Homo sapiens: one gene and its partners. The protein of the gene in region 1 purifies or fractionates together with the protein of each later gene. This does not show direct contact. Each region holds a gene or a part of one and is shown in the gene's direction. Other genes may lie near its edges. The genes, in order: TMEM260, MYH3, MYH7 and MYH4.

Region 1 (7,223 bases):
GCCTGATTCAATCAGTGGAAAGGCCTTAAGAGCAGGGATATGGGTCCCCTGATGAAGAAAAACTTCCAGCTGTGGACAACAGCTTTCTGCCATGCCCAGGAGTTCCAGTCTTCCCTTCCTGATGGCATGTGCTACGGGCTTCAGAGTTACTTAGCCAGCCCTCAAAATTACATTATACAATTCCTTGCAATAAATTGTATCATACATATCTCCTACTAGTTCTGTTTCTCTGGATGAATCCCAAATTATTTACATATTTTTCTGCTTTATGGTTTGTATTATAGTGGCTAACTCTAAGCCATCATAGAATGATGTAGAGCACAAACAATAAATCAATACTCGTTATATGTCTTATTGGTCTGTCTCAGGATCAAGTCCAACGATCACATGTTTACACATCATGTGTAAAGAGAGACATCATGAGGTCTCTCTCTTTATCTCTAACATTTTCTATCTTCAACCCTTCTCTTCTGTCCTCCTCAGTCCCATCCTCTCCAATAACCTGTACATCTTTACTTCATCACTATGTCTCTCCAAATACTCCCTTGAGTTACAAACAAAACAAGACATTCAAAAATCTTCATTTGACACTTCGATCCCTGTGAATTTTCATGCTATTTCTCTCTTTCCCTTCACTGCCAAACTTTTTGCAAATGTATTTTATTTTCATGTCTTCCATTTGCTCACTTCTTAGCCCACTAGTACCTTGTTTCTGTAGATACTACTCTACTGAAGCTGACCTCTTGAACTTTCAAGGTTCAAATACCTCCAGGTCACCAAATCCAACCATGCAGAGCCTGCTAGTTGCCCCTCAGTATCCATTCTCCCCTTCTTCCTTTGTAATAGAATTCTAGGCAAACTGTCCAGCTGAAAAGTCTATTTCGCAGCATCCTTTGCCCCTAGGAGTGACCTGTTATTCAATTTTGGCCAATTAGATATAGCAAAATTGTGGAATAGCATTTAAAAAAATAGTGCTTTTTTAAAAAAGCTGGAGCAGGCCTTTCTCTTCCCATCCTTTCTTTTTCTTCCTCAAGAACAGATGTAATGTCTGGAGCATTAGCAGCCACCTTGGATCAGTAGATGACCTTGAGAATGTGAGCTGAGTGGGATGGTGCAGAAAGATATGAGGACTTCAGCTGTGTCCCTAGTGGAATCAGGGAGTTGCCAAGCCAGTGGTAGACTGACTTCCTATAGACTTCTGACTTCTTTTATATAAGAGAATGATTGTTTTAATGTTTAAGACACTGTAGCAGGATCTGTCACTAGTAGCTAAATGCAATCCCTAACGGATATGCCAGTGATCTCTGATTGTTCATGTATTCATTTATTACATAAATATTTGTTTAGCACCAATTTTGTGCCAGGCATCATTTTAAATATGGTGGAAATTAGACAAAGTCCATCAGGTTTGACAGGCTATTTAGACATAGAAATGGAGAGGTCGGGGGCAGTTGGGTTTTTTAAAATAATCGGTCGCTAAAAAAGAGAAGCAGAGGAGGTCTAATTTTGAGAAATATTGCCCCATAGTTGCCCTTTAAAGCTTCAATATGATCATCTCGGGAAAGAAGACAGAAAGAGAGAAAAGTCTAGAACAGCCCAGGAATACTTCAGCATTTGGGGGACCGACAGAAGCAGAGCCAGGGCAGGGAGGCCATTGATAAAAGGAAAACCAAAGAGTGTGCTATCAATGAAGGCCAGAAAAGAAAATACTTCCGGGGAGGAAGGAATAGTCAGATGCTTACTGAGAGGTAGAGTCAGACATAAACAGAGAACTGGAAGTTCTTAATCTTCAAAGGAAAACAACCATGAAGCTAATGAAGCTTAGGCCTCACAGTTCCTCTCTAGCCCAGGTGTCTTCCAATATCTTGTGCCTAATTCTGTATCTGCAGTTTTATATCAGTTTACTTACATATAATTCTCCAAGTTTTATACACTTGAGCTTCACAAAATCTAGACGTGCCTCTCTTCATTGTCCTTTACCTCTCTGTAACATCCTGACCACATGTACTTCATCGACTTTTCTTCTTTAGCTTCTGGTGATGCCTCATTCTCTTACACTGTTCTCTCCCCTTCTCCAGCCATTCCCTAAATGAGAATATGGGCTGACATTAGACCTCAACCTTGTTCTCTCTACACTATCCCCTTATCAAGTTAGTCATTTATATCATCCTTACACGAGCAACTCCTAAATTTGTACTTCCAGCACTGATCTCTACCTCCCAAACATGGACAAAGAATTATTCCCCTCCAAAATAAAAAAATTTTAAATAAAACTCATGAGCAAAAGTGAAATGCATAAAAAGGGAAAGAAGTATATGCTTGACCCAGTCAAGGTTACTCATTGGCATGTTCTTTCAGCAAAGAAATAGAAGACAGCCTATCTTAACTATCTATTGCTGATAACTAACAAATTAGCCTGCATTTATCAACTTAAAACAACATTTATTATCTCGCGGTTTCTATAGGACAGCAGTCTGGATGAGGCTTAGTTAGGTCCTCTGCTTCAGGGTCATCCACAGGCTGCAATCCAAGTCTTGACAGGAGTTATAGTTATCTCAAGGCTTATGTGGGGGAAGGATCCACTTCCTAGCTCCCTCACATGGTGTTGCCTAGATTCAGTTCCTCTAAGGTTGTTGGACTGAAGGTCTCAGTTTCTTGCCAGCTGTTGGCTAGAGGCGGCTCTCAGTTTCTTCCCATGTGGACCTTTCCACAGGGCAGCCTACACCATGGTAGGTGGCTTCATCAGAGAGAACAAGTGAGAGGACAAGAGGGAGTGCCAGCAAGATGAAAGTTAGTCTTTCATAACCTAATCTTGAAAGTGACATCCATCACTTTTGCCTTATTGTATTGATAGAAGCCAATCCTTAGGTTAAGCTCACACATAAGGCGAGCAGCTTATACAGGAAGTGAGTGAGGAGGCAGGGTTATCTGGGAATCCATTTTAGAAGCACTCTACCACACAGCCCCTCTCCTCCAGGAACTCACAGTACAGCTGAGAAATTACCTGGAAAAGGCTGGAAATTGTATAAGTACCTGGAAAAGACTAAGGTGTGCTGGCCCCATGACCGTCAAGGTAGGTATATGTTACTCTATAGTTTAGTCACTGTGTCTCTATCAAATTGCGCGTAACACGTTTGAGATTGTCACTGGTTTTCAGTGTGTCTTTGAGATACATTTTATGCGGGTTGCTCTCCTCCCCGCCCACTCCAGGATAATTGCTTTAATAATAAAACATAAGCTTAAAAAGCTTAACTGCGCTGTTATGTAGTTGTCCTTATTAACGGCTCCGATTCTTTTTTTTTGCGTTACAGCTCATTGTAAAATATGGTGATTCAATTTCATTTTCCACTTTGCTGTGTTGAAAGCTCCAGCAAAACACTCCTCTTCATTAAACTAGGAGACACCTTTATCATGGTTTGAGTTATCTGCATGAATACAGGAACTCAAATTTCCCGACTCATCTACAGAGTTTTCATTATGCTATGGAATGAAAAAAAAAAAAAAAGACGCACTAGCATATTCTAATCTCTCTAAAAATTACTCAGTGATTTAATAAGTAGCACACAGACTTATTGTAATTAGTCATAGTAACGTAGTAAATCGTAATAAATACATAATTGTGATTAATGTATTTATTGGCTTACTTTGCACATACGGTAAATACACCACCCTTTTTTTTTTTTTAGCACAGGTAGGGGCTCCTGGCTGATCGTGGCCCTTTTGTGCAGTTCCACCCCGCACCGTAGGGGGCAGGAGCAGCCCTTCCTCGCTCGCGGTTTTCGACGCTGCTTTGGTCTCTGTCAGACCCAACCAAGTCAGTATAAAAGGGGGGAATAGCCATGGAGAAGGTAGGCCTGTGGCCGGGCTTGCTTTTTAAAGGGAATGCTCTCCTGGTGATTAGGAACCTTAAATCACATTATAAGTAGGTGAACGCCAATGCGTGGTGCACTGCGGGAAAACTCGCAGGGCCTGGCTCAAGGGAGGCCTGGCATTTTCTCCTCCCCGCGCTCAGGCGGAGAAAGGTGCGGTCCAACCCGCGGAGGCTCGACCCGGAAGCCGCCGTGGCCGCCGCACAAGCTGCGCTCGTCTCTCGGCTGGGGAGCTCCGTGTCGCACCGGGTTCTTGGGCTGGCCGTGTCCTTCTCCCTCGGTCGCCACTGGCCCATGAGTCCCCATGGCGACGGCAGGGGCCAGGCCCAGGGGCGGGCAGTCCGAGTGGGGCTGCGGCGCTCCGGGGGCATCCGCGGCGGCGTGGCGGTGTTCGCCGCCGTGGCCGCAGTGTTCACCTTCACCCTGCCCCCTTCGGTACCGGGGGGAGACTCCGGTAAAGTACTCGCAGGGTTGCCCCTTCTGTCCCTCTCCCCTGGTCCCAGAACGGGCAGGGTCTGCGTCTGGCCCCTGCTCTTGGCATTCGGTCTGGTCAGCTCTGGGCCTCCATCCACCCCCCTGTGCACAGCGCACTATTGTGTGTTCCAGAGCCCACTTCTGTTTCCATTCCTGTCGTTGTGGTTTCTTTAGTTCTCAGGTTTTCGAGATGGGGCGTATTGTTGGTTTCGCCTGGTGGGGCTTATCGACCTCTCCACTTCCCCAGATCTTTTATCCTGGTCCTGAGTATTTACTTTCAGTCTTTTTTAGTCCACAGATATTATTCACGGTGTCCTTATTATGTTTCAAACAAAAGAACAGTAGTGGCGAACAGATAATTGCTAGTGTTCCAGTGCGGTTAGACAATACACAAGTTAATGAATAAACAGCATATTCACTGGTGATAAGTTATGGAGACAGTAGGAGGGAAATATGATTGAGAGTGGGGGTAAGTAGTGGGTCCTTCCGAATGACTATTCAGGAAAGACCTCTGAAGAGGTGGTGTTTTAGTTGAAACCTGAATATTGAGAAGGAACTAGCCATGCAGAATATTTGCAGGAGAACTCTTAAAAAGGTGGAAGCCAGGTGCGGCTGTTTCTATGAAAAAGAAAAGCATGACTCATTGGCCCTTAAATCACACTAATTGTTTTGTATTTGATGCAAGAAACAAGATCCATGTTTTGTTTTTGGATTCAATAATGCCATATCATGGCCAGTAATTTTGTCAGAATAGTGCTGTAATTTCAGGTGGTGAACCTATGGACTGAAGAAGCAGTTTTTGCTGCATGACTAGTGATCCCCAAATTGAGCAGCTTAAACAGCAAACGTTTATCGTCTCCCGTTTTTGTAAATCAGGAGTCTGGGTGCCGTTTAAGCTAGATGCTCGTACTCAGAAAAAGGTTGCTGTCATGGTGTGCGATGGGGCTGCGGTCTTCTCAAGGCTCAATTTGGGGAGAAACGCAATCTAGTTCTTTGCTATGTGGGTCTCCATAAGTTAACTGACTTCTGTCAAGAAAAAGATGAAGGACACCTCTCTGTCTGACAGCTCTGTCATTTTGTAACCTAATACTGTAAGTGATATACCACTTCTGCATTTTATTCCTGGAACTTCGTCAGTAAACCCAACCCATATTCAAGGGGGAAGGATTACACAGGTGAGAATATCAGGACTTGGGGATTAGTGGGGATCATATTTAGGGCTGCCTACCACGTTGAAGATCTTTGATGTTACATCTTCAAATTGTTACCTTTCTTCTTTCAGGTCCTGTTGCACAAGTAGGGATAGTGTTTCATTCGTGTAGTAGGGAGTTTCTGTACAGTGTTACCAAGATTGGTATTTCATAATGGAAGTAACTTTATAGTTGTGAGTTTTGGTGCTGGAGAGCATTATTCAGAGGTTAGGTAGTTCTGTTACTTGTAAAAAAATAAAAAGATTGACAGCTACTTATGGTTGGTTGAGTGTGAAGGATGGGAGTGAGATTTATAATAACTGACGTTTGTTGGGCACTTACTATGTGCCAGGCACTGTTCCAAGTGCTTTATATGGGTTGTTGTTTTAACCCTCCCAGCTACCCTTAAAAGTAGGTGCAATTATTATTTTCCTTTTATAAATGGGAAAACTAAGGCTAAGCTATGCCCAAAGTCACACAAAGTAGAGAAATCAGGAAAAGAAAAGTATATTGACTTCAGAATATGCCCCCTTAACCTCTACTTTTCGTCAAAACATTTCATGAAATTCTTTTCTAAATCCACCATCACATATGTAGTGATGTTTAAAATTTATTTAAAATCATGATTATTGCCTTGCCTTTATTAATACTGTATTTTATTTTTTCCTAAAAGAATAAAGTTGTGTATTCACCTTGAGTTACCAAACTTTAGGTGCTTTAATTTTGTTTGGTTTGATGTTAAATAGTGGTTGCTTCTAATATTTTTATGTTCATTTTTGGGAATGATAAACTGTTTTCCAAGTATATGCCAATATGGAAAATTTGCTTTATCGTATATTTGATAATTGTGTTTACATGTTGAATGCACTATTCTTGAATGTTTATGAATTATATTTTCATCAATAAACAGAACACATCTCAAAACCAGTATAAAGCATGTATTCTTCTTCCTGATAAGTCTTACATTTTACTCCATAGATTCATCACATTGTGTCGTCTTGCCAAAATTATTTTTTGTACCACTTGACACACACAGTTCATTTATGGGCAGGGTGCTTGTGGTGCTTTTCGGGGAGGGGGTAGGAATCTGGCCTTCACTAAATTAGTTTGTACGTGAGTTTATTTCAAAGATACTGTCTTTAACAGATGTGATGTGTGACAGTCTAGTCTAATTAATATTGAGAAGTATGATATAAAGGGAGCTGGTTTTTGTAAAGGTTAAGCATCTGCTGACAACTCTGGGCTTGCCATTAGTTTGTATTGCAGACAACAAAGCCGTGGTTCTCAGACAGGAACGTACTTCAGAATTACCTGGGAAACTTGAGCCCCCAGTGCAAGTGGGTCTTAGTAGATTATGGAATTTGGAGGTGTGGGCAAGGAATCTTCATTTTTAAAAAGCAGGTTAATTCTGATGCAGGTAGACACAACTGAGGAACCTTTCATGTAAAGGGTTGGGAGAAAGCCAAGACTCGGGAAGCTCGAGGTTTTTTTACTATTCCCTTCCTCTTTATCACAATCAATTTAAGAGTAGTATTTCCCTTTAGATCTTTATCAAGGTTACATTTAGAGACGTTGAATGGGGACATCTTTTCTATTTCGATTTTAGTTTAACATTTGATAAGAATTGATGAAAGTTTGTCACATTCCAGATTTATCTTTATAGCAGCAGAAGTCTGGCAAATAATAACAG
Region 2 (7,231 bases), on another chromosome or scaffold:
CTAGTTTCTAAAATCCACATCAGGAGAATCTGGAAAAGTCCCAAGAAAAGTAAAAAGCAAAAAAAGGAAAAAAGAAAGAAAGAGTGAAAGAGAGATGGAGGGAAGGAAGGAAGGAAAGAAAGAAGGAAGAAAGAAAGCAAGGAAGGAAGGAAAGAAAGAAAGAGAAAGAAAGAAAGAAAATAAAAGAGACAAGTAAAGGAAATACTATCATTGGGTTGGGCATGAAGGAAAAAAGGCATTAAAAACCGCCCTGCACGTGAACCCGGGAGGTGGAGCTTGCAGTGAGCCTAGATCACGCCACTGCACTCCAGCCTGGGAGACAGAGCAAGACTCGGTCCCCCCAAAAAATAAGAACCGCCCTGCAGTGCTACCAAGCATTGGAGCTCCGAAAAGGTGGCTCTCTGTGTATTTCCAATAAGGAGCTAAGAATGGGCTGCTAACACGTCAGGGAAGGAGGAAGCTAGATACAGTGAATGATAATCTAAGATGAACCTAAGAGACCATCATAGACAGCCAGGGCCCATTGGCCGGGATGGTTTGAATGAATCCCTGCTTGAAGGCAGGGAAAAGGCAGGTTTCCCATCCACACTGCCCAGAGACAGAACCAGGAAAACTGACCATTTCAGAGGAGGTCACAGAGAAAAAGGAGGTGAGGACAGGGCAGGGAAGAGGAAGACAAGTTCCCCACCCCCTGTGCCTGAGGTCCTCCAGCTTCCCGAGGGTGTGGGGGTTTGTCCTGCTGAGAGAAGTGCAGGTGCTCAGAACCACTGCTCTGCCTCATGGTGCCGTTTGCCTGGCTTATAACACTCTGACCCCAGAAAGGGCAGGAAAGGGGTGGGGAGGGCAACTGAGGGGCCCTTTCCTGAGCATGCTGGGGCTGGGTGGTGAAGGGGGAAGAGGTGGGCCGGGGGCTGGACAGCTGCTTTCAGAGAGCTCAGAATGTTGGCAATCCATGGGCACCAGCCTGGCAATCCAATGCCCCTTCCTCATTCTCTTCGGTCCCTGCCTCACGACTGCAGGGGACATATGCGTCATTTTCTCTCAGTAGACAGGAAAGAGCCAGCTGCTGGAGCTGGATTTTGGTCCAGGCAGTGTTACTGACTGAGCTGAAAGGTTCCTGCTGGCCCCGTTCCCAGCCACCATCACCCATATCCACCCACACAGATCCTCTTTTCTCATTTCCGACATCCGTCTCTCACCTCAGGCCCAATGGGGAGGAAGAAGACACCCTGAATAACAGAAACAAACCCCATTTCATCAGCACCACCACAAGCCGCCCCATAGCCTTTCCTCCTCTCGCTGTGAGCTGGGCTTGTTCTAGGGTTTGGCCCTTCCATCTCGGCTCAAGAGTCTCTTGGTCTTTTGGTGGGGGCAGCAGACAAGACGTGCAGACAGGCCAGGCACGGTGCCTCACACCTGTAATCCCAGCACTTTGGGAGGCTGAGGCGGGTGGATCACGAGGTCAGGAGATCGAGACCATCCTGGCTAACACGGTGAAACCCCGTCTCTACTAAAAATAAAAAAAATTAGCCGGGTGTGGTGGCGGGCGCCTGTAATCCCAGCTACTTGGGAGGCTGAGGCAGAAGAATGGTGTGAACCCGGGAGGTGGAGCTTGCAGTGAGCCGAGATCGCATCACTGCACTCCAGCCTGGGCGACAAAGCAAGACTCCGTCTCAAAAAAAAAAAAAAAAAAAAAAAAAAAAAAGACGTGCAGACCATCTTAGTGAAGCACTGTGCCTCTTCCTTTTTAGACCCTGGTGGTCAAACCAGAGGATGTGTACGCCATGAACCCCCCCAAGTTCGACAGGATCGAAGACATGGCCATGCTGACGCACCTGAATGAGCCAGCCGTGCTGTACAACCTGAAGGACCGTTACACATCTTGGATGATCTATGTCAGCGAGGGCTTTCGACGTGGTTTCCCTGGGGCATTAGATATGCGGGCAGGGGAGGGAGGCAGAGGTATGTGTGTGGGCCGTGGGATTCTGGAAGATGAGTGCTTGCCTAGCTGATGAACAAAACACAAAGACGGAGGAGAAAGAAGGCAAGAAAGCAAGAGGTGGATGGGGCAGGAAGAAGGAAGGTGGGAAGGAGGACCAGGAGCCGGAGAGCGGGGAAGCTGGGGCCAGGCTTGGTCACGGGGTGCTGTGACTTACCAACTGTGGGAGGGTCGCCACTCCCCTTTTTGAGTCTCAGTGCCTCACTATAAATAGGAATGGTAGCCTCCCCCCTTTATAAGTTTATCCCAAAGAAACATGAGATAATAATAAAGGCAGCTGGGTGTGGTGGCTCACGCCCGTAATCCCAGCACTTTGGGAGGGTAAGGCGGGTGGATCATGAGGTCAAGAGATCGAGACCATTCTGGCCAACATGGTGAAGCCCCATCTCTACTAAAATACAAAAATTAGCCGGGCGTGATGGCATGTACCTGTAGTCCCAGCTACTCGGGAGGCTGAGGCAGGAGAATTGCTTGAACCCGGGAGGTGGAGGTTGCAGTGAGCCAAGATCGTGCCACTGCACTCCAGCCTGGTGACAGAGTGAGACTCCGTCTCAAAAAAAAAAAAAAACAATAATAATAATAAAGGCAAGGGGTTTTCCATATGCACATACATACATATACGCACGTATATGTTTTTCCTCCCACAGACCTACTCAGGCCTCTTCTGTGTCACTGTCAACCCCTACAAGTGGCTGCCGGTGTACAACCCCGAGGTGGTGGAAGGCTACCGAGGCAAAAAGCGCCAGGAGGCCCCACCCCACATCTTCTCCATCTCTGACAACGCCTATCAGTTCATGCTGACTGGTGAGTTTCCCAGGAGGAAGCATGGGATGCTGGAGCAGGCACTGCATGAGGCGAGCGGCAGTTGCCCCTTACTCCCAGGCTGGACCCCATCTGGTGTTTAGCACAGGGAAAGGAGGAAGAAGGAGCCAAAAGAGGCAGAAAGGGGCTGCATCATGTAGGGCCCCGCATGCCAAGGTGACGAGTTTTGGATTTAATGCAAGTTAGAATATGCAAAACGGATATGGATGTTTTCATGGATCAAAACCAAAAACTGATCATTTTATATAGTTCAGCCTAATACAGCAAGAACGATGAGAAGCCACTGGCTGGTTTTTTTTTTTTTTTTTTGAGATGGAGTCTTGCTATGTTGCCCAGGCTGGAGTGCAGTGGTGTGATCTCGGCTCACCACAACCTCTGCCTCCCGGGTTCAAGCGATTCTCCTGCCTCAGCCTCCCGAGTAGCTGCGACTACAGGTATGCACCACCATGTCCGGCTATTTTTATATTTTTAATAGAGACAGGGGTCACTTTGTTGGCCAGGCTGGTCTCAAACTCCTGACCTCGTGATCTGCCTGCCACAGCCTCCCAAAGTGCTGGGATTACAGGCATGAGCCACTGCACCCGGCTGCCACTGGCTGATTCTGAGTGGAGACTTGCCCTCTCTGAGTCTCAGTCTCAAGAAGGAGGCTTTCGATATTGACCAAAGGATACAGCTGGAAAGGAGAAATCGGTGCTGGTGATCTGTCCCATAGAATGGTGACTCCGATAAGTAATAATGCATTGTATATTTCAAAATCCCTAAAATAGTATATTTTAAATGTTTTCTCCACAAAAAAATAAGTATGTGAGGTGACGGATTTGTTAATTAGCTTGATTTAATCATTCTGCCATATAAACATATATCAAATCATCATGTTGTACCCTACAAATATATACAAATATTGTTTGTCAATTAAAAATAAAATAAAATAAAAAGCAGATGGAGGCTCTTCAGATTCCCACCTAAAGGCTAAACAAAAAATGTAAAGGAAGAGGAATTGTGCAATTTAACTCTGGCTACTTGAGAGTTGGGTAGAATCGGGAAGCTCTTTTTCTATTGCCATCAACTCTATTTTATTTTTTCCTCTGGCAGATCGTGAAAACCAGTCCATTCTGATCACGTAAGTATCCATGGCATAGAGTGGTTTCATAGCTGTGCCACTGGCTCTATTCTGTTCATTAGAAAGTGTTTGGAGCAGAGTCTATAATAAAAAGATCAGGCTGGGCGCGGTGGCTGACACCTGTAATCCCAGCACTTTGGTAGGCTGAGATGGGCGGATCACGAGGTCCAGGAGATCGAGACCATCCTGGCTAACACGGTGAAACCCTGCCTCTACTAAAAAAAATACAAAAAAATTAGCTGGGTGTGGTGGCGGGCACCTGTAGTCACAGCTACTCAGGAGGCTGAGGCAGGAGAATGGCGTGAACCCAGGAGCCGGAGCTTGCAGTGAGCCGAGATCGCGCCACTGCACTCCAGCCTGGGCAGCAGAGTGAGATTCTGTCTCAAAAAATAAAAAATAAAAGAGAAAAATAAATAAATAAAAAATAAAAAGATCGATTTGGGGATGGGGAGGAAGGTCTGCATAAGGCCTCAGAAAAATGGAATTACCCATCCTTGGGTCAGCTGAGCAAGTGCCTGTGGCACCTGTGCCCTGGGCGTCTGCCTTCTCAAGTGGTCTGTCACATTAGTGTGGTGAGTGTGTGTCAGAGATGGCTCAGACCATGCCCAGGCCTCAGTATGACATCCTGAAAAGCCTGTTTATACTAACAGACTTGTTTCTTTCTCTCTCTTTTGATCACTCTGTACAGCGGAGAATCCGGGGCAGGAAAGACTGTGAACACCAAACGGGTCATCCAGTACTTTGCAACAATTGCAGCTACTGGGGACCTGGCCAAGAAGAAGGACTCCAAAATGAAGGTATAGATGGGAGAGGAAGGCTTGCTTTGCTTCCACTTTTAACTGTGGTCTTAACCTCAGAATGAGGGGGCCAAATGTCCTCACATTCCCCCCTCTTCAGAGAATGGAGAACAGGCTAGGATTTACTATCTTGAAGGACAGCCAGTCACCTTAGACAACGCAGTGTCAAGTTGGTCTTGTAGGACTAGATCCCGGGATTTCTTAGAAGACAAGGCTCTAGGGCTAAACTTCAGAGGTCAATCTGCAGACGGCTCAGAGAGCTTGTTCTTTTGTGGAAGAATCACATATACCAATGTGAGTGACTCACAGCATATCCTGGGCTTTTGAAACAAATGTATTACAGCAGCATGAAATGAATACGGACAACTGACTGGAGAATCAAGGGATTGAAGTGTTAAAGGAATGCTCAGTCAAGAGATCCCCAACTGTAGTGCCAAATATAACAAAATGGCAAAAGTGTTTTGAGTAAGACATGCTGCTGATTTGGTTGGTCCTAGGATTGGAAAGTCAAGGAGGGTGGGGCTTTATCAGGGCAAGCCAGAGTCACAGAGTGGGTGAGCATTTTTTACTGTCATTCTGTGGCTTAAAAACATGTTTCCTCAGGCTGGGCTCGGTGGCTCACGCCTGTAATCCCAGCACTTTGGGAGGCCGAGGCGGGTGGATCACCTGAGGTTAGGAGTTCGAGACCAACCTGACCAATATGGAGAAACCCCATCTCTACTAAAAATACAAAATTAGCCGGGCATGGTAGTGCATGCCTGTAGTCCCAGGTACTCGGGAGGCTGAGGCAGGAGAATCACATGAACCCGGGAGGTGGAGGTTGCAGTAAGCCAAGATCGTGCCATTGCACTGCAGCCTGGGCAACAAGAGTGTAACTCCATCTCAAAAAAAAATGTTTCCTCTTCTTCCCTCAATTTCTTGCATTAGGGGACTCTGGAAGATCAAATCATCAGTGCCAATCCCCTGCTGGAGGCCTTTGGGAACGCCAAGACTGTGAGGAATGACAACTCCTCCCGTTTTGTGAGTCTGAGTTTGGTTAAGATGGAATTTGCTTTGTGCCTCACAAAATAGGCAAGAGCCCTGTCCTCAAAGAGTGTAGAGACCAGAGGCAACAGATGATGAAAAACAAAACAACCCAACAAGACCATTTCAGATAAAGATAAATTCAGACCAAGTTCAATGAACAGCGTGTGTAAGAGAGGAACTGGGGGCCAGGCTTGCTTTAGGCAGGGTGGGCAGGGAAGACCTCTCTGTGGGGCTGGCACGGGAGCTGAGAGCCGCAGTATGAGAAAGAGCCCAACTTGAAATGACAGGAAGGAGGGGGAACGAAGGAAGGGCCAGGGCAGTCCCTGACATGGGGGAGGGCCTGGTGCAGTCAGGGCACCTACAGAGGGTCTGTGTGGTTGTAGGGAGGAGGGCAGGGGGGCCAGTTCCATGAGATGAGGTGGAAGAGAGAGAGACCTGGTCATGTGGGAGCCACAGGCCATGAGAAGGAGTTTGGATTCCTTTTGAAGTGTAACAGGAAGCTACTGAGGGATTCTATAAGCCAGGGAGTGATATGGTTTGATTTACACCTTGAAACAATCACTGTAGTTGCTTTGTTGACTAGATACGTTGAAGTGGGGGATGAGCATAGAATAAAAGGGATAAATAAAAGGAAATAAGGAAAACCCCAAACTGGAAGAAGAAGAAGGGAGAAGAGGAAGGACATATCTAATTTCAAACTGTAGGGGGTGCTGGGCACGGTGGCTCACGCCTGTAATCCCAGCACTTTGGGAGGCCGAGGCGGGCGGATCACGAGGTCAAGAGATCGAGACCATCCTGGCCAACATGGTGAAACCCCGTCTCTATTAAAAATACAGAAATTAGCCAGGTGTGGTGGCACGTGATTGTAGTCCCAGCTACTCAGGAGGCTGAGGCAGGAGAATCACTTGAACCCGGGAGGCAGAGGTTGCAGTGAGCCGAGATCACGCCACTGCACTCCAGCCTGGTGACAGAGCGAGACTCCGTCTCAAAAACATAACAAAACAAAACAAAACAAAACAAAAATTTTAGGGGGACTAGGCTCCTACTCAAATTACCCATAAGATGAATAGGAACTATTGGGCCATGGTAGAATCTGGTCTCCCCCTGAATCCCGCCCCATACAGGGCAAGTTCATCCGAATCCATTTTGGAACCACTGGGAAGCTGGCCTCTGCAGATATTGAAACTTGTAAGTAGATCCATGGGGATTCGATGGCGTCTCAGAGTTAACTGGGAACAGTTTGAAAGAGAGTCCTGTGTTTGTGTTCCAGATCTTCTGGAAAAATCAAGAGTCACTTTCCAGCTGAAGGCTGAAAGAAGCTACCACATCTTCTACCAGATTCTTTCTAACAAGAAGCCTGAGCTCATAGGTGAGGAAGTCACCAGTGGGGCTGGTCTTTTAGGTAGTTTGACTCTGATCACTAGACCAAGGAGAGTTGTATCTACGTAGAGTGACTCTACAGTCAAC
Region 3 (7,227 bases), about 33 Mb from region 1:
TCCTGAGTAGCTGGGACTACAGGAGTGCACCACCATGCCCGGCTAATTTTTGTATTTTTTGTAGAGACGGGGTTTCACTATGTTGGTCAGGCTAGTCTCAAACTCCTGACCTCAAGTTATCTGCCTGCCTCAGCCTCTCAAACTGCTGTGATTACAGGTGTGAGCCACCAACGCCCAGCCTGCTCCTATCTGGTGGCCTGACCAATGTCACCACTTGGCCTGGGTCAACTCCTGCTGGACCTCAGGACACACTGGCTTGTCATGAGGGAAGCTCAGTGGGCAGCAGTCAAGCAGTGATGCCTATCCCAGCTCAGGGCTGGACTGTGGGCCTAGACTGAGTCTAGGACAGTCTGAGAACCTTGGCCTCCTGGCATGACGTTCCCAAGGGCAGTCACAGTCTGGGTAGAGCCGACCACAAGACTGCAGGATTTCTGATCTACTCTGGTCCAGACCATCCTTTGAACCAAGTGGACTTAGTGGGGCTGAAGGAGGTGTGGGGACAAAGAACCTATGGCAGGGCAACCGGCCCTCCTGTCTGCAGCCTGGCTTCCTCAATTTTGTGTTCCTAACCTAAGAGCTGCCATTCAGTGAGGGCCCACAGTGTGTCTGCTGTGTGTAGACTCTGCTTGTGCAATCTCTAATGGCCTGAGTAGCCCTGGAAACAAAATGTGGCTATCCCCATGTTACAGATGACAAAACTGGCTCAAAGCAATTATATGACTGACGTAGACCACACAGCTAGAAAATGGAATCACTGGGTTTCAAAGTGGATTTTTGTGACTGACTCCAAAGCTGACCAGACTGCTCATCCTGTATGCTTCTGAGGCCTCTGGCCCTCCAGACCGGTCACTCCCCACAAAGTCTCCCTTTTGGTGAGTTGTGTCCCTCCAAACACTCCCTGAAGGCAAGATCAACCTGCCCTAACTACCCCAAAGTGAACTAGGCCAGCCCCAAGCCTGTCTCCGGCCCTCCATCTCTCTCTTTGTTCACATCCATCAGAAAGCAGAGACCTAGAGTAGGGAATGAGAGGGGGTGCACAAGTACAAAAGATTTTGAAGCCAGCAGGAAGACAAAAGAATGACAAGAAGGAGCAGCTGTTTGTAAAGGGAAATCTGAGACAGGCAGAAAGCTCAGCTCCCTAATCCTAGGCTCGTGTGGAGCCAGGGCAGGGTCCCCCCAAGGTCAGGGATTCTGGGGGCAGGCGGATGGGAGAGTCAGCCTCCACTCCTGGGTGGCTCCCCTCTGCCCTGTGCACAAACAACGAGTGCCTCATTCCTCCCCTGCACCAAGTGCCCTGCCTCTTCCTGCCCCGTTTCTTCCTTCCCTTTGGGTACCGGAGCTTTTTTCTGATTCCCCTCTCTCCATGCTGACATCGCTTCTAATTCGCCCTGGTGTCTCCCTCCCTCACAATTACTGGGAGTAATTTTAGCAACTTTTCCTCTGAACTACCGCTGGCGTGTTCACAGCAAATGGCCCCTGTTTTGGCTTGACACTTGATCAGGGTGGTGACAGAGTGCAGACAAAGCCGGCACAATGCGGGGAGGGGAGGACGGGGGACAGATCACCTTCCTTTCACTTCAGGCCTTATTTGGTCTACCTTGCCGAAGCGGCCCTCCTTCCAGCCTCTCTTTATTTATAGCATTTTGCTTTGCTCTCCTTTATCTTGCTATCACTTTGTAGCACACTCTGCACAATCCCCACCCACCCCAGCATGGTGGGGCCCCTGGCCCCTCACTCTCCCCACAAGGAATGTGCATGTGTGCAAAGGGTAGGCCTGGATGCCATTTCTACAAACAGTTGACTAAAGCAGTCCAGAGCAGGGATCTTTCTTTGGGTCATTGTTATGTCCTTATTGACCAGAATAATGCCTGGCACATAGTAGGCACTCAATAAATACTTGTTGAATGGAGGAATCTGCAAAGCTGCTCAGTCTTCAGACAGCAGCAAGCAGCAGGAAGAGAATCATGATGTAACCAAGAGCAGGTGCTGGAGGAGCTAGGGAGTGAGTGGGGATCTTTAAGGACAGCAGGCCCTCTGATCTGTCTGAGCTGTGAGGCAAAGCCTAGTTAGGGAGGTGAGTTCTATCTGCAATGAGAGGGGGCATGGGTGGAGAACAGTAACACCCAAACACCAACAGACCAGAGCCTCCCAAACCCGAAAGGAGAGAAACAAAGTGTGATTGATTTCCCAAATGCAGAAAAGACTACCCAAGTCCCCAGCCAAGGAAGGACGCTGGCCTGTGGTGAAGACACTGGCTTTGAAATGGCTCAACTACGTCCCAAGCACCCTTTGTGCATCTTAATTGCCCTGGGAAATCAGGGAGGGGTGGCAGTTTGGAGCTTGGAAAGCTGGAAGGTGGGGACGAAAGGAGTTTTTGCCCCTCATCGCCAATCCTTGAGGTTCCTACAGGGAACCTCAGACAACAGCTGTCTTAGGGGTTTCCTTCCAGCTCCAAGCAGCTGTATTATCTATAGCTTTGAGAGGGTCTGTCTCTGTCAATGGGGCTGATTCCTCAGCACCTGGCAGGGCCTGGGGGGGACTGCCAGAGTCTGTTCTGCCGGGCATGTTAGTAGCACAGACTACTGGGATAACCTCAGCAACTGTATACCTTAGCACTGCAGAGCTGCGGTGTTGTCAGACACAGCCCTTGCAGTTCGTGGTCTACCCCCACTTGCCTGCACCCCCCTTATAGCTGCTCAATGTCCTCAGACTGTACCTTAGTGCCTTGGTTACCAAGCAACCCCCACAGAGGCCTCCTCCTGGATTTTCCCTTCCCTGCTATGCCCACCCCACCTTCAAAATGTACCTGCTGCACCCATCCCCCAGGCCTGCCTCACTCCTTCCAAGCTGACAGCTAATCAGATGGACTAATCCGCATGCGCGGAAGAGCTGTGCTTGGGAAGAAGGGGGAGATTTCACACCAAATCGTGCAGTGGTTGCCTAGACACGGAGCCAGTCAAGCTTGCATGCCCCGTTGCTAGAAGAGCATGGCATCGGTTGTGTTCTGTGCTCGTAGGCTGGGCCCCAGCTCCCTTTCCTCCCCTCCTTTGTGGCTGTTCCTCAGGCCTGCAGAGGGGAAGATTTTTCCTGTCCTGTTACTCTGCCTCACTTGCCAGAACACTAGTCGCCTCCAGCTCTGGATAAAGCTGAGGCTGGGTGGGCCAGACAACAGCTGTCTTAGGGGTCTCCTTCCAGCTCCAAGTAGTTGTATTATCTATAGCTCTGAGAGGGTCTGTCTCTGGGCTCAGGCCTTTAGTACCTGTGGGGCAGAGCCAGGAACGTGAGTCAGGCAAACCGCTCCAAACTAGGACCAATGCAGCTGGGTCCTGCTCTCTGCGCATAGGGGGTCCCCACATCTTTGGAATCCCAGCCCACCTTTCCAGGCTACCCTCCACAGGCCGGGCTCCACTCCCATCTGCTGAGGTTTCCCACCTTGAATCCTGCTGCCCCGATTAGCTGTATAACCTTAAAGAATGCACTGTCCCTCTCCATTAAATGAAGTGCTTGGATGGATTGCTAAAGGCCTGTCTGGCTCGGAGGCTTGGTGACCTCAACACATTGCCTGCTGGTCCAAGGAAATCAGTGCCTGAGCCAGAGTCCCCATCTCTAAGCTCCATGGTTATTGTTCTTGCCACCTGGCTAGGAAATGTCCTTCCAGCTGCCCCAGTCTAGCTGCCTCACCCTGGGGCCATGCCCCCAACTCTGTCCTACCCTTCTCTGCTGCTGACACTCAGCCCCTTCCCAGCTTCCAGTTGGATACAGGACCTGGGCCAGGAGAGCAGGGAGGACACTGTGGAAATGCGGCCAGGCCATCAGGGGCCTCGCAGCAGGGGACTGGAGGGGGAGCAGTGTCCAGGGCCAGAAGTGCCCTGCGGGAGAGCCAGGACATTGGCTGCCTGTGGTCTTGGTGGTCGTGGTCAGTTCCCTCTCCTGCCAGCTGTGGAATGTGAGGCCTGGCCTGGGAGATATTTTTGCTGCACTTTGAGCCACCCCGCCCCCTGGAACTCAGACCCTGCACAGTCCATGCCATAACAATGACGACCACTTCCAATTGTTTCCTAGCTGGAGAGGCGGGGAGGGGAGCACTGTTTGGGAAGGGGGGGAGCCTGGGGGAAATGCTTCTAGTGACAACAGCCCTTTCTAAATCCGGCTAGGGACTGGGTGCCGTTGGGGGTGGGGGTGCCCTGCTGCCCCATATATACAGCCCCTGAGACCAGGTCTGGCTCCACAGCTCTGTCCTGCTCTGTGTCTTTCCCTGCTGCTCTCAGGTAGGAGCGGGAGCTGGAGGCTTTACTCTGGGATAAGGGGGCTCCAGGCTTAGGAAGGGATTCCTCTTGGAATAGCAAGCTTCATGCAGGACTTCATGCAGAGTACCAGGTCCAGTCACTGGGCACACATGTGCAGGTCTAAACATGGGCGTATGTGCCACAGGAGTTCCTAGGGGAAGATATCTGCATCTGAGCATATGGGACCAATATGCATTACAGGGTGTGTGTGTGTGTGTGTGTGTGTGTGTGTGTGTGGACAAGCCTGCATAGTCTGAATGTGAGAAAGGGTATGTACCTCACTGACTGATACAGAAATATCAAGTGGGAGATGTGGGTGTATGATCACGTCTGTGAACGAGGAGGTTCCTTTGCAGGGAGGGAGAAAGAATGGTGGAGAAGGATTCTAGGAAGTGTGTATGCCTTCATGTGATTCTGTGAGGCCTGGAATGTGTAGCTACCCCTGTCCATGCATGCAGAGGTTCTTGTCTATGCCTCCACGAGTCATGACTGTTATAGTATCTGTACCCTCTGCAGAAGGAACTCACAGGCACGGGGGTGTAGGATGTTCCAGGTCTTTGTGTACTGAAGAACACGCAGTGATGTGATCTACTTACGTGGCACACATCCTGAAATGTGCACATTTGCTGTTGAGGCATATATGGCACCCTGGGGTTGGGGTGCGGATTGAGGTATGGGAAGGAAGCCTGTCTTCATGTGAGAGGCATGCCCAAGCAGCAGGCATGAGTGTTCATCAGAGGGCTTGTGGAGGGTGTTTGGCTATGTGATGGGTGTGTCTGTGAGAGGAAGCCCACAGTGTCTTCTCTCTGAGAATGTCCACAAAGTCTGACAACAAAATGGGGACAGGATGGAAAAGAAGTCTCTTTAGAGTCATCAGACTTGCATTCAAGTCTTGGCTCTCCCACTTGTTGTCATGGGCTCTTGGCCAAGCAAGCCATTTAACCTCGATTTCCTCATCTGTCAAATGGGGTGAAGACTGAGTAGGAGAAAGTGCATTGAAGTGCTTTTAGACTGGAAAGTGCCGAACAAATGTGACCATTAGTTGTCTCTCAGATGGCTCAAAGAAAGGTACCACTAGATGGGTACAGGCAGGGGTGGGACCATCTCGCAGGAGTGAAGAGGATTAGGGTTCAGGTTGAGTTGACACCAGGAAGCTGTTAGAACTAGTTCTTGAGGAAAAAGGGAATAGGGTTTGAAAAACAAGAAGGATGGGACCAGAGAAGCTGACCACCCTTTCCACCTTGTTTTGGAAGAGGGTGGATGCTGAAGAACAGAGCCAGGGAGAAGCAGGAAGGTGGGACTGGTCAGGTTGGGCACAGCCTGCCCTGACACAGCCTCTTCCCTCTCTCCAGGTCCCCTGCAGGCCTTGGCCCCTTTCCTCATCTGTAGACACACTTGAGTAGCCCAGGTAAGAAAAGCTGAAGCTAGAGTGTTGAAAATCTAGTAAGACTGGGCATTAGAGCCCCAAAGCCAGCCTATGGAACTCTAGTTTCTGCCATGTGCTGGAGAGAATATCTTGGCTATCAAGAGCTACTTACCTGTGACCAGGGGGTCCAGGGATAGATGAGGGTCAGAGATGGAAATAGTTAGATTTCTGCTCCTACAGGGAGCTCAGAATGCTCTTCCTTCCCCTAGGAGAGCCCCAGCTTGAACAATAGTTAGTTGTTCCTTTTACCCTGGCAGGTTTGCTAGGCTGCTCCTCTGGTTAAGGGGTAACCTCAAAGAGGAAGGGACTCACTGGTAACTCCTCTTGACTCTTGAGCATGGTGCTAGGTTTTGGGGCTCCCACTGAAGGGGAGAGCCCAGGGAGGGAAGGGAAGAATGGGCAGATGGGAGGGCAGCCAGCTTCTGCTCACTCCAGGCACAGCCATGGGAGATTCGGAGATGGCAGTCTTTGGGGCTGCCGCCCCCTACCTGCGCAAGTCAGAGAAGGAGCGGCTAGAAGCGCAGACCAGGCCTTTTGACCTCAAGAAGGATGTCTTCGTGCCTGATGACAAACAGGAGTTTGTCAAGGCCAAGATCGTGTCTCGAGAGGGTGGCAAAGTCACTGCCGAGACCGAGTATGGCAAGGTGGGTGTCAGGCTGATGTGAGAGTCCACCCTGGCCACCTGTACACCTGGGTGGACAGAGAGGGGTACACCCATGCCCCATGCCCATGCAGACCTGAGGATGGTCCCATTCTCCTTCCCTTTGGGGAAGAATCCAGACCCTCCAAAGAGCCCTCTCCTTCCCAATATCCCTTCTGTCTTCCCTGTGAGATCCTGGTTCCTTCTCTCTTGAGCACTATTGCCCTGTCACTCACCAACTCCTAACCCTCTTGAGGAAGGAGGGAAAGCCCAGGCTGACAGGAGGGCTTGGGTGGGGGCTCTTGCAGACAGTGACCGTGAAGGAGGACCAGGTGATGCAGCAGAACCCACCCAAGTTCGACAAAATCGAGGACATGGCCATGCTGACCTTCCTGCATGAGCCCGCGGTGCTCTACAACCTCAAGGATCGCTACGGCTCCTGGATGATCTACGTGAGTGCTGCACCTGGCCCTACGTTGGGATCTCTGTTCTTGCTCCATCCATGTCCACCCCAGGAGCCAAGAGTGTCTTCTGTTTGTGTCTAGGCAGGGTTACACTCTAACCTCGTCCCAACATCCTTGGTTCAATTCCAACACTCTGGGGACTGGCATTACTCAGATTGAGTGCATGCAGAGGTTTTCCTTTCTCTTCTTTCTCTCCTGGGATCTTTCTCTAACTCCCAAAATCACCAGCCCTCCCCCTTCGCAACTGGCAAGTCACTGCTCCTTTTCTATCCCCAGACCTACTCGGGCCTCTTCTGTGTCACCGTCAACCCTTACAAGTGGCTGCCGGTGTACACTCCTGAGGTGGTGGCTGCCTACCGGGGCAAGAAGAGGAGCGAGGCCCCGCCCCACATCTTCTCCATCTCCGACAAC
Region 4 (7,231 bases), on another chromosome or scaffold:
TCAATTCTACTTTGTTTAGAACTATATAATAGGAAAACAATCTGAAGGTTTATAATTTAATAAACCAAAATGCCTTAAATTCAGAAGAAAATACTAATAGATACTCTGTAGATAGAATACTTGTTATGCGTAATTTCCTATATTTATCTTGTTCTGTAGTTCAACAGCCTGGAGCAGCTGTGCATCAACTTCACCAACGAGAAACTGCAACAGTTTTTCAACCACCACATGTTCGTGCTGGAGCAGGAAGAGTACAAGAAGGAAGGCATCGAGTGGGAGTTCATTGACTTCGGGATGGACCTGGCTGCCTGCATCGAGCTCATCGAGAAGGTTCATATGACTTTTCTAGCTTTCAAAACATGAAAACCAAATTGCTTGCCTCCCTGTGCTTAATCACACTCCCTGTTCTCAAAGAACAAGCAGTGCTGTTTCCTGACACACTCGTATATTCTGATTGGTTGTGAGGTATGTTCCAAGTGATCTGTTATTAATAAGTAGAGCAGTTTGTAGAAAAATGTTTATCACTCACACACATATGGATTCGCATTTATCCCTCTAAAAACTTAATTCTCCCTCACTTTTCTTCCTACACTATTTCATGCATATGGGAGAAAGGGATGAAATTACAGCTATTCCTCTGGGTTGTGTAATTAACCCTGGTGTACCCATGACAGTGTATTGTGCATTTATCATCATCCCTCATGTGTAACAAGGCAGGCTATGTCAACACGTCTTAAAGATTGGAAGGTTAGTCCTTCAACTGTTGCAGTCATTAAGTCTTTCCCCGTTCATGATAACTACTGAATAAACACCAAACCTCTGTATCACTTACCTAGAAAATGGGCCCTGAATTCCCCATTACTAAGGGGGTGAAGCAATAGTTACATCAGATCTAGATATGTTAACACTCATCAAGCAATCGTTAAACACTTCCAAAAGTATCTTGGGAGCTTGTCATATACTTATTGATATCAATAAAGTGTATGTGTGAACCCTACCCTAAGCAGTGGGAAAGGAAGCGTAAATGCAATTGCCACCTAGGAAAACTTAAAATACTCAGGTTAAAATTCACAAAAATATGAAAGATAAGAGTTTAAAAGCAGACTAGGTCTGCACAATTTGGGGAAAAGATACGTTAATCTGGTGATATAATATCTCTACTATTCATGAAAACTTTATGGTCTTCAGAAAAGGCATTTATTTTATTCTCTAGTATTTCAGTTTCTGTATCACCAAAATAGTCTTAGGGGTACAATTTGTGAATTTGTTAAATCATCAATGTTGAATTTTCTTTCAGTCTTTCCTATCAAATACATTAAGAAAAAAGCCAAACTCTTAGAAAGCAAAACCAAATTACTATCACTTAACTCCACAGTGGTAGAGAATATAGGTTAAAGTACAGAATTTTAATGATACAATATAAGATGCAATTTCCTCCTAGGAATGGATCATTTTTAGTCCTTACACATAATCTCTCTTCCCTTCATACTTCTGTCACCTCTAGATTCGAGGTAAAGGAAGTTATATTGTCAGTAGGAAAGAAAGTAGTCAGATATATACATTTATGGAATAAAGAATTCAATTTTGAAGTGATGTTTTCAGAATCTGATTTTATACACTGAACATAAAGTGTGCCAAATAGTTCAGATGTATTTTTTTTAACTGAGTCTTTCTAGCAAGTATATTTCCCATATGTTCTGGGTACATAATGACTGCTTCACATGTCATGCCTATTTAATTTATCATTCAAAGTCTTCTTTTGAAACATTGTATTTTCAGTTTTCCATCAATTACATGGAGCATAACTTTCTGAGGGACTCATCATTATCATCCCTTTTTTCCTATTCTTAGCCTATGGGCATCTTCTCCATCCTAGAAGAGGAGTGCATGTTCCCCAAGGCAACAGACACCTCCTTCAAGAACAAGCTGTATGAACAACATCTTGGAAAATCCAACAACTTCCAGAAGCCCAAGCCTGCCAAAGGCAAGCCTGAGGCTCACTTCTCACTGGTGCACTATGCCGGCACCGTGGACTACAACATCGCCGGCTGGCTGGACAAAAACAAGGACCCCCTGAATGAGACTGTGGTGGGGCTGTACCAGAAGTCTGCAATGAAGACTCTGGCTTTCCTCTTCTCTGGGGCACAAACTGCTGAAGCAGGTCATGTTTAATAGCACTAATATGTTACAAGAGTCACAAAATAGATATACACTGTTCAACAGAGACAAATGTAGTTACAGCAAAACCTGACACAAAAACACTGGCCAATACATGCCTAATGAAAGAAAGTGTATTTAATAACTGTGATACAGTCTTACAGTCACAGACTTTCAGAGCTAAGTGACACTATGGAGCATTTAGCCCACAGCCTGATTTCACTCATGAGAAAACAAGAATCTCAGAGAGGTTAAGTGATTTGCTCAGGATCATAAAACTCATTTCTATCATTTTAATAGTATTGGTTCTTTCAAGGTTCTCCAGCTAGGCTGGAGATAAGGAAATCCTTTGTCAGGGCCCTAGTGCTTGGGGAACTGAAGTTCTGTTCTCTTAAGTGTTCTAAGACCAGATGTGCAAGTAACACCATGGAAGCACAGGCAAATGGGAGCCAGGATTTCCCTGCAGGTGAGCAGAGGCTCACCTACCTGGGACCAAGTGTGCAACTCTGCCTGTTGTCCAAGTGAGGCCTGCACTAACAAGGCATTACTACTCTGTCTCCTTGGCCCTTCCTTCAGAGAACAGACATTGCTGACTTGGAGTAGGGGAGTCCCATCCCCTACCCACATCTACCCCTTACACTCACAATTCTTTTGTTGTTGGTTTTTTCATGAATGACTATAAAGTCAGCCAAATCTTAGACTTTCTTAATCTACAATTGAGGGAGGAGAGATATGGAAAGAATAGGAATGATGCAAGTGAATGAGTGCAAATTTAAATTCTAAAGGGAATTTTGGCAGTCCTGATGTTTATGGATAGTACTTAAAAGGCAGTTGCAAATAACTTTATTTTTCCCATTTTGTTTTTTAGAGGGTGGTGGTGGAAAGAAAGGTGGCAAAAAGAAGGGTTCTTCTTTCCAGACAGTGTCAGCTCTTTTCAGGGTACAGTATATTCTTGAATTACAGATAAATACTTTCATTAAAAAACTAAACCATCAAAACAGAAAATTTTTTAAAAGATATTTATGGTGAAAGTGAATAAAGTAGTACAGTATACTTTTTAGTATACTACTAAAGGTTTTGTAAACTTTTTAAATGGCTTAGGAAAAAAAATTAGCACAAAAAAACAAACTACATATCTCTTCACATCAATCTTTATGATACGTGAACCATTGCCCCTGAGCCCTACATCCAAGAGATCTGGTATTGTACAAATTTCACATGAAATCAAATGCTCTTTTAAAAATAACCACTGTATTCAATTACATCTCCTTCATGTGACAAAAATCGCAATACAAAGTTTCTCTGACTGGTGGTGCTTGAGAATAACAAACTGAAATTAACTGATTTTGTGTAATCTGTAATTTCCTACCTGTGCTCCACTTATATGATTCCTCTCTGTTATGATAATTTGTTTTTCCTTGAGACAGCTCATTAAAATGTGAAATGAAAGACAAATATTGATAGGGACTCTCATGTCGATGCAACTAGAAATGATTTTAAAACTTTTCATATGGTTCCACAGGAGAATTTGAATAAGCTGATGACCAACTTGAGGAGCACTCACCCCCACTTTGTGCGGTGCATCATCCCCAATGAAACTAAAACTCCTGGTAAGACATTTCTGATATCCAGACAAGCTCCAGTGTGTGTGCGATAGACCACGAAGTATGGCATGTGGATTCATTCTCTTAGGTGCCATGGAGCATGAGCTTGTCCTGCATCAGCTGAGGTGTAACGGTGTGCTGGAAGGCATCCGCATCTGCAGGAAAGGCTTCCCAAGCAGAATCCTTTATGCAGACTTCAAACAGAGGTTTGTGTCTCATTATTTTTCCCTTCCAATGTCTTAGTCTACACAAAATCACTATATAATTCCAACATTTTTAAACTTTTCCTTGAAAAATGACATGCAATTATTTGAAAATTGATCATAAAAGAAAGAAGCTTAGGTTTATATTATCATAAGTTTTTCATCATATCTTCCGAAGTTTTAAATAAAGCACTGACTTTTTAAATGGCATTTTGTTCACCAAAACTTAATCTATCATCTTTTCAATGATAGCTACCAAATGTTCTACTGTTTTTTTCAGTGAAGAAAAACCACATTTTTATATTCTTTTTATTCTGACAGATACAAGGTTCTAAATGCGAGTGCTATCCCAGAGGGTCAGTTCATTGACAGCAAGAAGGCTTCTGAGAAACTTCTAGGGTCTATTGAAATTGACCACACCCAGTACAAATTCGGTCATACCAAGGTATCACCAGTCCAAATTTCTATCTGTCATAATTCTATCACTTTTAGACTTTCCTGTAAGTGGAAATAACATATTTAACTTGTTCTTTCATAAGGTTTTCTTCAAAGCTGGCCTGCTGGGAACTCTAGAGGAAATGCGAGATGAAAAGCTAGCTCAACTCATCACGCGCACTCAAGCCATATGCAGAGGGTTCCTGATGAGAGTGGAGTTCAGAAAGATGATGGAGAGGAGGTGAGAGCCCACACACAAGTCTTCCTGCTCCACACTTTCATAAATGAATCCACTGCAGTCATTACTTTTGTTGAGTGATGATCACTTTCCACATTATTCTCCATTTGCATCTTTTTTTCTTTTCCTACAGAGAGTCCATCTTCTGCATTCAGTACAACATCCGTGCTTTCATGAATGTGAAGCACTGGCCCTGGATGAAGCTGTATTTCAAGATCAAGCCCCTCCTCAAGAGTGCAGAGACAGAGAAGGAGATGGCCAACATGAAGGAAGAATTTGAGAAAACCAAAGAAGAGCTGGCTAAGACAGAGGCAAAAAGGAAAGAACTAGAAGAAAAGATGGTGACGCTAATGCAAGAGAAAAATGACTTACAACTCCAAGTTCAAGCTGTAAGTATTATACATTGCAGTTCAGCCACATCTTATTACTTTTAACGTTTTAAAATGAATGGTTTCCACTGAAACATTTGTTCTGATTGTTTGCTGTTCAAAAACACCAAGACTCGGGCATAAAGAAGCAATAGATGCAAAGTCACATATCATGCTGCACACGTTCATATGTGCATTCACACACAGTTTGGTCATCAGTGAGCAAATTCATAAAAATATCAATAGACATTTTCCTTTATTTATGGAACTTTCTCTCAGATCAGATTATTCTTTCTTTAGTGTATTTTTGTGCATAAAATAGAAGTTATGTTGTTTTTATCAGGGCAGAGAAATGGCTAAGTTAATCCCCTCTTAAATGTGAGAAAACTGAGTCCTACAATGAACAAGCGATTTTTCCAAAGTTGCAAAGGTTAGTAAAGTGGCAGATTTTTGCCAAAGGGCTAGTTTTCCTGATTTGGCCTGCCACACATGAATATCTGAAGGAAATTTGTTATTATACTTGATCAGTAGATAACAGTATTAACATTTTGTCTGTTTCATTTTAAAAGTTAGCAACTGGTATACATGTTGACCAAACAGGTAGTCACTGAAATTTCCACCTTATAATAAATTATTGTGTGCTTATAGATATAGCTCAGACAAATGAAAATGCTTAATTTCTCCCTTTAGGAAGCAGATGCCTTGGCTGATGCAGAGGAAAGATGTGATCAGTTGATTAAAACCAAAATCCAACTTGAGGCCAAAATCAAAGAGGTAACTGAAAGAGCTGAGGATGAGGAAGAGATCAATGCTGAGCTGACAGCCAAGAAGAGGAAACTGGAGGATGAATGTTCAGAGCTCAAGAAAGACATTGATGACCTTGAGCTGACACTGGCCAAGGTTGAGAAGGAGAAACATGCCACAGAGAACAAGGTACAAATCATGATCCATTTTAGAATATTTATAAGCACCTTGATACTGAAGTATTTTAATTAAAAATTTAATCTTAAGATGATTGAATATAAAAAATACCACTGTCATAACTATTTCATCTCTTTAGTCTTCACCACCTCAATGTACTTACTTGACCTTTACCTCCTATTTTTTCAGCCATTATAGGCCTGGGTTAGCTCCTGGTTCTCATTTTCCATCTTACGCTGACATTATCCTAAGATACTACAGCATCATGTTTTTCATCAAGATAATACGTTGTCATTGACATTCTGGTCATCTGTTCTAATCTAAAGGTGAAAAACCTCACAGAAGAGATGGCAGGTCTGGATGAAACCATTGCTAAGCTGACCAAGGAGAAGAAGGCTCTCCAGGAGGCCCACCAGCAGACCCTGGATGACCTGCAGATGGAGGAGGACAAAGTCAACACCCTGACCAAAGCTAAAACCAAGCTAGAACAGCAAGTGGACGATGTAAGTGTGAAAAAGAAAATGTTTCCCCTTGCAATGAAATAAACAATTGTGACATGAAACCAGCACTGATAGTCATAAGCCTTTAACGCTTGGTCTGTGAATAAAGTTCTTGTGCTATTTGTTGTATCTTTAAATTTTTTTCTTATGTATCTTTGAAGGCTACTAGCATAGGGTTCAGTGCTTAAGAGCTGAAATAAATAAAATGCATCATAAATTTAGCTTGAAGGATCTCTGGAACAAGAAAAGAAACTTTGCATGGACTTAGAAAGAGCCAAGAGAAAACTGGAGGGTGACCTAAAATTGGCCCAAGAATCCACAATGGATACAGAAAATGACAAACAGCAACTTAATGAGAAACTCAAAAAGTAAGTATGGTATAATTCAGCTATAACCTGCTTGTTGTATGTCAATGCAAATGAAACATACGCTAAAAAGATCTCCAAAATGTTACATCATGACATATGGAAAAAAATAATGACATCTTTGACCTTTTTATTTAATTAAACTAATACAATTATTAATCTGTAAAACATTGTACTACTCACTCCTTCAACACCAGCAGTATAAAAAAAGTCTTAGATTATACATAGAAAAGAAGATTGGTAAGAGAAGTGATTATAAGCTAATGTGTTGCTCTTCTAATAGGAAAGAGTTTGAAATGAGCAATCTGCAAGGCAAGATTGAAGATGAACAAGCCCTTGCAATACAGCTACAAAAGAAGATCAAAGAATTACAGGTAAGTTATAACCTCCACCTTTTCTGGGCATTACAGGAAACAAAACTGACATAAATTCACATTAAT

The links.
Region 2: the proteins of TMEM260 (region 1) and MYH3 purify together in Homo sapiens (affinity purification with mass spectrometry; 3 studies listed by BioGRID and IntAct, with this or other methods). This does not show direct contact.
Region 3: the proteins of TMEM260 (region 1) and MYH7 purify together in Homo sapiens (affinity purification with mass spectrometry; 3 studies listed by BioGRID and IntAct, with this or other methods). This does not show direct contact.
Region 4: the proteins of TMEM260 (region 1) and MYH4 purify together in Homo sapiens (affinity purification with mass spectrometry; 3 studies listed by BioGRID and IntAct, with this or other methods). This does not show direct contact.

The regions. Positions count from the first base shown.
Region 1 is NC_000014.9:56,575,752-56,582,974, forward strand, and holds the start of TMEM260 (protein O-mannosyl-transferase TMEM260 precursor), read left to right. Parts: upstream 1-4,046; 5' UTR 4,047-4,163; coding exon 4,164-4,323; intron 4,324-7,223. UniProt on the Homo sapiens protein: O-mannosyl-transferase that transfers mannosyl residues to the hydroxyl group of serine or threonine residues of proteins. Specifically glycosylates the IPT/TIG domain of target proteins, such as MET and MST1R/RON.
Region 2 is NC_000017.11:10,647,084-10,654,314, reverse strand, and holds part of MYH3 (myosin-3), read left to right. Parts: intron 1-1,751; coding exon 1,752-1,895; intron 1,896-2,646; coding exon 2,647-2,803; intron 2,804-3,913; coding exon 3,914-3,941; intron 3,942-4,629; coding exon 4,630-4,738; intron 4,739-5,665; coding exon 5,666-5,758; intron 5,759-6,888; coding exon 6,889-6,952; intron 6,953-7,034; coding exon 7,035-7,133; intron 7,134-7,231. UniProt on the Homo sapiens protein: Muscle contraction.
Region 3 is NC_000014.9:23,432,661-23,439,887, reverse strand, and holds the start of MYH7 (myosin-7), read left to right. Parts: upstream 1-4,227; 5' UTR 4,228-4,268; intron 4,269-5,638; 5' UTR 5,639-5,694; intron 5,695-6,147; 5' UTR 6,148-6,155; coding exon 6,156-6,356; intron 6,357-6,660; coding exon 6,661-6,804; intron 6,805-7,092; coding exon 7,093-7,227. UniProt on the Homo sapiens protein: Myosins are actin-based motor molecules with ATPase activity essential for muscle contraction. Forms regular bipolar thick filaments that, together with actin thin filaments, constitute the fundamental contractile unit of skeletal and cardiac muscle.
Region 4 is NC_000017.11:10,452,350-10,459,580, reverse strand, and holds part of MYH4 (myosin-4), read left to right. Parts: intron 1-159; coding exon 160-330; intron 331-1,851; coding exon 1,852-2,161; intron 2,162-3,025; coding exon 3,026-3,096; intron 3,097-3,679; coding exon 3,680-3,767; intron 3,768-3,849; coding exon 3,850-3,967; intron 3,968-4,285; coding exon 4,286-4,409; intron 4,410-4,503; coding exon 4,504-4,640; intron 4,641-4,770; coding exon 4,771-5,026; intron 5,027-5,695; coding exon 5,696-5,938; intron 5,939-6,252; coding exon 6,253-6,429; intron 6,430-6,648; coding exon 6,649-6,794; intron 6,795-7,074; coding exon 7,075-7,165; intron 7,166-7,231. UniProt on the Homo sapiens protein: Muscle contraction.